Homo sapiens: one gene and its partner. The protein of the gene in region 2 purifies or fractionates together with the protein of the main gene of each other region. This does not show direct contact. Each region holds a gene or a part of one and is shown on either strand. Other genes may lie near its edges. The genes, in order: SCAND3 and ZSCAN23.

Region 1 (3,825 bases), 140 kb from region 2:
AACAAGCTTCACTGGACTTTTTTGTCAAGAAAAGACATGCCTTTTCTGAACACAGTAGTAGTAATAAAAGAAATGTTAACAATAGAAGTTATCCTGAAGAAGGGAAAACCAAAAGAGTTCATGCTAGTTTCACTCGGAAATATGATCCTTCATATATTGAGTTTGGTTTTGTAGCTGTAATTGATGGTGAAGTACTAAAACCACAGTGTATTATTTGTGGAGATGTACTGGCTAATGAAGCAATGAAACCATCAAAACTTAAGCGACATTTATATTCAAAACATAAAGAAATAAGTTCACAACCAAAAGAATTCTTTGAAAGAAAGAGTAGTGAATTGAAAAGCCAACCAAAGCAGGTGTTCAACGTTTCTCATATAAACATTAGTGCTTTGCGGGCTTCATATAAAGTAGCACTTCCGGTTGCCAAGTCTAAAACACCATACACAATTGCTGAGACACTAGTGAAAGACTGCATCAAAGAAGTTTGCTTGGAAATGTTGGGTGAATCTGCAGCAAAGAAGGTAGCTCAGGTACCACTTTCCAATGACACCATAGCTCGACGTATTCAGGAACTGGCTAATGATATGGAAGATCAACTCATAGAACAAATAAAACTAGCAAAGTATTTTTCATTGCAACTTGATGAATGCAGAGATATTGCTAACATGATAATTCTTTTAGTCTATGTGAGGTTTGAACATGATGATGATATAAAGGAAGAGTTCTTTTTTTCAGCCTCTTTGCCTACAAACACAACTAGCTCAGAACTGTATGAAGCTGTAAAGAATTATATTGTTAACAAATGTGGTTTGGAATTTAAATTTTGTGTAGGAGTATGTTCTGATGGTGCAGCTTCAATGACAGGAAAACATTCTGAAGTGGTAACCCAGATTAAGGAACTTGCGCCAGAATGTAAAACAACACATTGCTTCATTCATCGAGAAAGTCTTGCCATGAAAAAAATATCAGCTGAACTAAATAGTGTACTTAATGATATAGTAAAAATTGTGAATTATATAAAATCTAATTCATTGAATTCAAGATTATTCTCTTTATTATGTGATAATATGGAAGCTGATCATAAGCAACTGTTACTGCATGCTGAGATACGGTGGTTATCACGGGGAAAAGTTCTGTCAAGAATGTTTGAAATACGAAATGAACTCTTAGTGTTTCTGCAAGGCAAGAAACCCATGTGGTCCCAACTTTTTAAAGATGTGAATTGGACAGCCAGACTTGCTTATTTGTCTGATATCTTCAGTATTTTTAATGATCTTAATGCTTCTATGCAAGGGAAGAATGCAACTTATTTTTCAATGGCAGATAAAGTTGAAGGACAAAAACAGAAGTTAGAAGCTTGGAAAAACAGAATTTCTACAGATTGTTATGACATGTTTCATAATTTAACAACAATTATCAATGAAGTAGGTAATGATCTTGATATTGCACATCTGCGAAAAGTTATCAGTGAACATCTTACAAATTTGTTAGAATGTTTTGAATTTTATTTTCCATCAAAAGAAGATCCACGCATAGGAAATTTGTGGATCCAAAATCCATTTCTTTCATCAAAAGATAACTTAAATTTAACTGTAACTCTACAGGATAAGTTGTTGAAGCTGGCTACCGACGAAGGATTGAAAATCAGTTTTGAAAATACAGCATCACTTCCTTCATTTTGGATAAAAGCTAAAAATGACTATCCTGAGCTTGCTGAGATTGCTTTAAAATTGCTGCTTCTTTTCCCCTCAACATACCTCTGTGAGACCGGATTCTCTACTTTAAGTGTTATTAAAACAAAACATAGAAACAGTTTAAATATACATTATCCCCTGAGGGTAGCATTGTCATCAATCCAACCTAGATTAGACAAATTAACAAGCAAGAAGCAAGCTCACTTATCACATTAAAAGCTTTAAATATTGATATGTAAGGTATTGGTTCAAAGTATGCATATAAGCATTGAGTGTGAGGAATTTGCTATTTCACTTTAAACTTTCTGTCTAGTTACAGTTATGGAAGTATGAGAAGTTATGAGTGAAACAGCAATTTTCTATATAAATTGCCTATATGTATATTTTCAATTAAGAATGTGTACAGTTTTTATAATTCTATTTTTCCTCATATTTGTCGTATTTATTAAAATATAATTTTAAATCTGTTGATTCTAATATTAAAACATTTGATCTTATATTTTGTGTCTTCTTCTTGTATTTCATTAGCATGTTAAGATTGTAGGACAACTTCAGGATGGGAGATGGTTTCTTTGAAATAGACAAGGTCAGTGAAAGGAAGTGAATTCAAAGGGGTAGGCTTAGAATTCAAATGCAGGGGACAGGTCAGTAGGGTATGAAGTTTGTTAAACTGATCCAGAGTGGTTAGGTTGGAAGTTGATGTTGTTTGTTTTGTAGGTGCATGTTTAGACAAAGATGGAAGGGAACACTTATTTTGTAATGGTGTTATGGCCTTGGATTCATATTGATAAATTTATTTACTTATTTATTTTTGAGGCAGGGTCTTGCTCTGTTGCCCAGGCTGGAGTGCATTGGTGCAATCTCTGCTCACTGCAACCTGTACCTCCTGGGTTCAAGTGATTCTCTTGCCTCAGTCTTCCGAGTAACTGAGATTACAGGCACCCACCACCATGCCTGGCTAATTTTTGTATTTATAGTAGAGATGGGGTTTCACCATGTTGGCCAGGCTCATCTTGAACTCCTGACATCAGATGACCCTCCCACCTCGGCCTCTCAAAGTGCTGGGATTACAGGCGTGACCTGCTGCGCCCGGCCGATAAATTCTGATTTCATAAGGATGGGCGATTGGGCCATACTGACAAGTTTATGTTAGGTGGTTTCTAGATTTTGCTAGAACTGATTGCCTTTAAGGTGCTCTGGGACAAAGTCAGAAATTATTGGCACCTCAATTAGATTTAACAACCTCTATTTTGTTTGGAGATGATTCAGAAAAATGCCACAAATATCTGCTCTTGTGTCTGTGAACTCATTTAGAATAATCGAAAGCAAATTAGTCCGATAAAACAGGTTCTTTAGCATCAAAACATGACAGAATCCATGAAGAAAATATCTTTTCCTAGACAGGGTAGCAATTTACAGTAAGTGCTTCGTTTCAAATAAATGTGATATTCAAAGTTAAGGAAAGGAAGGCTATTTAGTGATTCAGAATGTTACTAATAATTTAACCTTTTGGTAATGGAAGTTTCAAGGATCCTCCAAACCTTTGAAAGTAGAGGAAAGGTTCATATTTAGTCCTGAAACCTTAATTGGATTATGTTTTATTGTGTGTTTGTTTTAATCTTACAGCTTTTCAAAAACAAAAAACCTTATCATGGTGGATAGATTTAGAAGACAGTGGTTTAATTTCTCCCACTGACAAATTATATGCCCTCTTTCTTATCTGACCATATTCTAGAACTAAGGGATTTTAAAATGTTTTACAGTTTGTTTTATTGATTGAATAAAGTATTGTGTTTCCCATTTTTAATTTCAAAAGGCAATGTGGTGATTTTATATTTATTTCTATAAAAACTTAAAGTAGTCTGGAAGAAATTAAGAGGGAATTAAGAGTACATATTAAAAGAGAACTAAATTCCCTTACTTTCTCTCTAAGAAATATAAAGTATTAGATGTTTGAGATTGGTACAAAGCCTTCACTTTCTCTCTAAGAAATATAAAGTATTGGATGTCTGAGATTGGTACAAAGCCTTCTCATATACTTGAACAACTATTTTTATTTTTTTCTGCAAATGATTCAGTGCCAGGAGGCTAACTTGCTTTACCTTTTTTTTAAGACATAGGAATATTTGTC
Region 2 (3,825 bases):
AGGTTTTCCATTTCTTTGTCTCCTGGACCTTGTGTAAAGCTTTGTAAAGAGTTACTAAGTCAATGTTAAGGGAAATAAATTTTTTTATTTATGATCTTGGTGGTAATCAATAGTAAATGCTGAGAAAATGTGGAGGTTATAAAAACAATCAACATGAAAGAGTGATCATACTCTTCTCTTCAATCTTGAATATGTTTCAAATTTTCCATACAAAATATTGAATAAAGGAGAAAAAGGCAAAAACAAAAAAATGCTCATTATATGTTACGGGAAAAATACAAAGAGGCCTGTATTTTCCAATAAGAAATCTGAGGTGAGATATCAGATTTTTAGCTAAGTTTCTTAGCCTCTGCGTAAATTTAAAATCATGAGCAATATTTGTTATGAGGAGCCACTGAGCTGCTAATAACATATGGCTGCTTCAGTTCCTTGGTTCCTAAAGGCTAACTAAAAAATCTATAGAAATCTAACTTACTATAAATCTACATTTATATAGGAGGATTCATCTGCCCCTTTTTGTAGGTTACAAAACAAATTATCATATTTTATGTGAATGGAAAGAAGTCAGGAAACCTATATTATGAATTTTATTACAATTATTTTTAAGTTAATTTTTAAATACTCGGTGAACTGCATTTGAGATTATTTTGTACTCAGCCTACATATAACTATTTTAAACTTTTAAAAAAAGTTTTTAAAAACTAGGATGAAGAAGTTTTCCTGAAATAGAAAACTTCTTGCACAGATGTGTGTGAAACTAGGTCTACAGCATACATGATGAAATCAACACAAGAGGCAACATTCAGTATTGCAAAGCTGTGGATGTCACTGATCAGAGAACTCGGCAGATGTATTTAAGATATTATGCTTCTCTCTGCATAAAAGTAAGGGAATTTTTACTGGCTTTCCCTTGAACTTTTCTATGCTAGAGGACACAGCAGGGACAAAGTAAGAAATATTATCCCCTACCTGTTCCAAGGAGCTAGCTTGATTCAGCCACTGGGTGGACTTTCCGATGCTGGATTAGGTTGCAATGGTAAATGAAGTTCTTGCCACATTCTTCACATTCATAAGGTCTCTCTCCAGTGTGAATTCTCTGATGCTTAATGAGGACTGAACGTCGACTAAAACTCTTATTGCACTGATTGCACTGGTAAGGCTTCTCCCCAGTGTGAATTCTGAGGTGATGGAAAAGCCCGGCATTCTGGCTGAAGGCTTTGCCACAAACACTGCACTGGTAGCGCTTCTCCCCAGTGTGGAGTCTCTGGTGCTGGAATAGGCCTGACCTCTGGCTGAAGGCCCGCCCACACTCATCACATTCATAAGGCTTCTCACCTGTGTGTGTTCTCTGGTGCTCGATAAGGATGGAATTCTGGGTGAAGCTTTTTCCACATTCACTACAGATATAGGGTCTCTCCACTGAAGAGCTCACCCTTTGCTTTTCCAATCTGCCCTCACGGTCACAGGTATCTCCATACTCAGGAATCTGAGTAATATTACCATTCTGTTTTCCAAGAACTTGTATAAGAGATTTCACTTCCTGAGAAATCTCCCTCTTTGGGGCTAACTCCACATTCCAAGTCCCAGCCTTGCCATCTAAAATAACGATAACATGAAAGATAACATGAAGTATGAAAAATAACAGATTATCTTTCCAAAGACAAAAGAAAAAAAGTGGCCAGGAGAATGGGTGGAAGGGGACAAGTAGCCACTTTTTCTGTTTATTTTTCCACTCTAAAGCTATTATACCCAGACCTCAGGGAAAAGATGCATGGTATTATAACTGCTTACTTAATTGTCTGCCTCTCCCACTAGACTGTAAACTTCGTGAGAGTGGGGACCACATCTGCCTTGTTTATCACTGTATCCCTGGTACCTGGCACAGTGCCTGGCATACAGCAGACACTAAATAAATGGGTTGAATTGATAAATATTCAGGGAATGAGGTAGGCTGTCTGAGGAAATCCTGATCCTCACCAATCTCTTGAACTGGGCACACCTCTCGCAAATTATACCCAAGTTGCTCTTCCAAGGTTTGGAATTGGTCATTTGATGACTCCTGAGCTGCTCCTGGAGTTGCCTTCTCCTTTACAAACTCTTCCTGTTCATGAGCATGGCTCAGGACCTGGTGGAAATCAAGGACAGTTGGGAACCCAATATCAGAGAGAACATGGCAAGGAGGCCTCCTCAGGGCCGCTGGATAGAAAAGAAGGACCAAGAAGCTGGCAAAGAAAAAACAGAGGCAGAGAGACTAAAAGCCTACAGAAGATCAAGTCTGGCATAAAAAAAAAATCCTCCTCCTCTACCTTTTCTTGTTGCACTGAAACCCCATACTTGTTCTTATAGGTACAAATCCCTGTTCTCCCATCTTCTCACCTGCTCTCCTGGGTCATCCAGCTCTCTCTCCAAATCCTCCAGCACAGTCACTGCCTCCTCTCCACTCACAGGACGGTGCTGTCTGACCCAGGCCTGGAGCTCCTCAGGCAGGATAGTCAGGAACTGCTCCAGCACCAGCAGCTCTAGGATCTGCTCCTTGGTGTGCATCTCTGGTCTCAGCCACTGATGGCAGAGCTCCTGGAGTCTTTGAAGAGCCTCCCGGGGCCCAGGGGACTCCTGATAGCAGAACTGCCTGAAGCGTCTACGAAAGATCTCTCTGGTATGAGGGTTATTTCTTGACAGGCCTGATTCTGGCCCACAGGAATGTTCCTCCTCTTCCTCCTTTACCTTCACTGCCAGAAGTCCTTCCTGCATCTCTGCAGTCTGAAGGGTCAAGGTTATGGCCATCAAAGGTTTAACTATTCAGAAAAATAATCTATTCTTGATAATTCTCCCTTGATCTTTTCTTCTGGAAACCCCGAGATCTAGACAATAATTTACGAAGAAAAAAATATAAAAATGCAGAAAACCTCAGGACAAGGAGGGACTGGAGTATTTACACTAAAATCAGTCACTCTGTCTCATGAAGGAACACCAAAACCTGATTAATGATAGATACTTTAGAAATACAAATCCAGATAATATAGGAAGAAAAAAGAAATGGAACAAAAACGCCTACAGTTTTCTGAAGGAAGGTACTGTTTCAATCATCCTGACCGAAACAGCTCAAATCAGCTTGAGTATATTGGGTTTCCATTTGAATAGCAAGATACTAAATTCAGGGTAAATTTTAGCTGTATGAAGGTAAAAAAACACTTTGGGCCCAAGTGGTCACAGATGACACCAAGAATCAAGAAGAAAAGGGAAACAAATGGAGGATGGAGGGAAAGTAAAGAATATAAAAAGAATAAGAACCGTAAGAAATGCACTTGGAGAGAGGAGGCAGAGTCCCTCCAGCCATAGAAGGTAGAGTCCCTCCAGCCATAGGAGGTATGGAGGAGGGAGATCTAGGTTTAAAGTGTGTAAGGTCTTGGACTGAGACATCAACCTGCAGGTATTCCCTCCAGAGTCTTGGGCTTCATGTTTTGAGCCTTGGTCTCTTCAATCTATAAAACAGGAATCCTAAAACCAACACTGCCTATCTTTCTAGGTTGATACAAAGATAAAACGAGGATAATGAGCACAAAGAAGTTGGCTACTTAGTAAACTCCAAAGTGGTAACACTTATTTTTCTTATGTTATTGTATGATTAAATGAATATCCTAGTGGTTTAAGGCTAAGGCAAAAGAATCAGAAAGTAGTTGACTGCAGTGGTCTAGGCTCAGAGATACTAAAATGACGGAAATATTGGTTCCAGTACTTTAAAACAGGAGTAGAATTTGACCTTTCTCTTGCCCTTTAATTTCTTTGAAACTTTTTCTCTTTGAAGCTACTTGAAGGTGGAGAGTA

Evidence for each region.
Region 1: the proteins of ZSCAN23 (region 2) and SCAND3 purify together in Homo sapiens (affinity purification with mass spectrometry; one large-scale study listed by BioGRID and IntAct). This does not show direct contact.

Annotation. Positions count from the first base shown.
Region 1 is NC_000006.12:28,569,996-28,573,820, reverse strand, and holds the end of SCAND3 (SCAN domain-containing protein 3), read left to right. Parts: coding exon 1-1,910; 3' UTR 1,911-3,286; downstream 3,287-3,825.
Region 2 is NC_000006.12:28,433,483-28,437,307, forward strand, and holds part of ZSCAN23 (zinc finger and SCAN domain-containing protein 23), read right to left. Parts: intron 2,862-3,825; 5' UTR 2,785-2,861; coding exon 2,377-2,784; intron 2,126-2,376; coding exon 1,978-2,125; intron 1,597-1,977; coding exon 983-1,596; 3' UTR 1-982. UniProt on the Homo sapiens protein: May be involved in transcriptional regulation.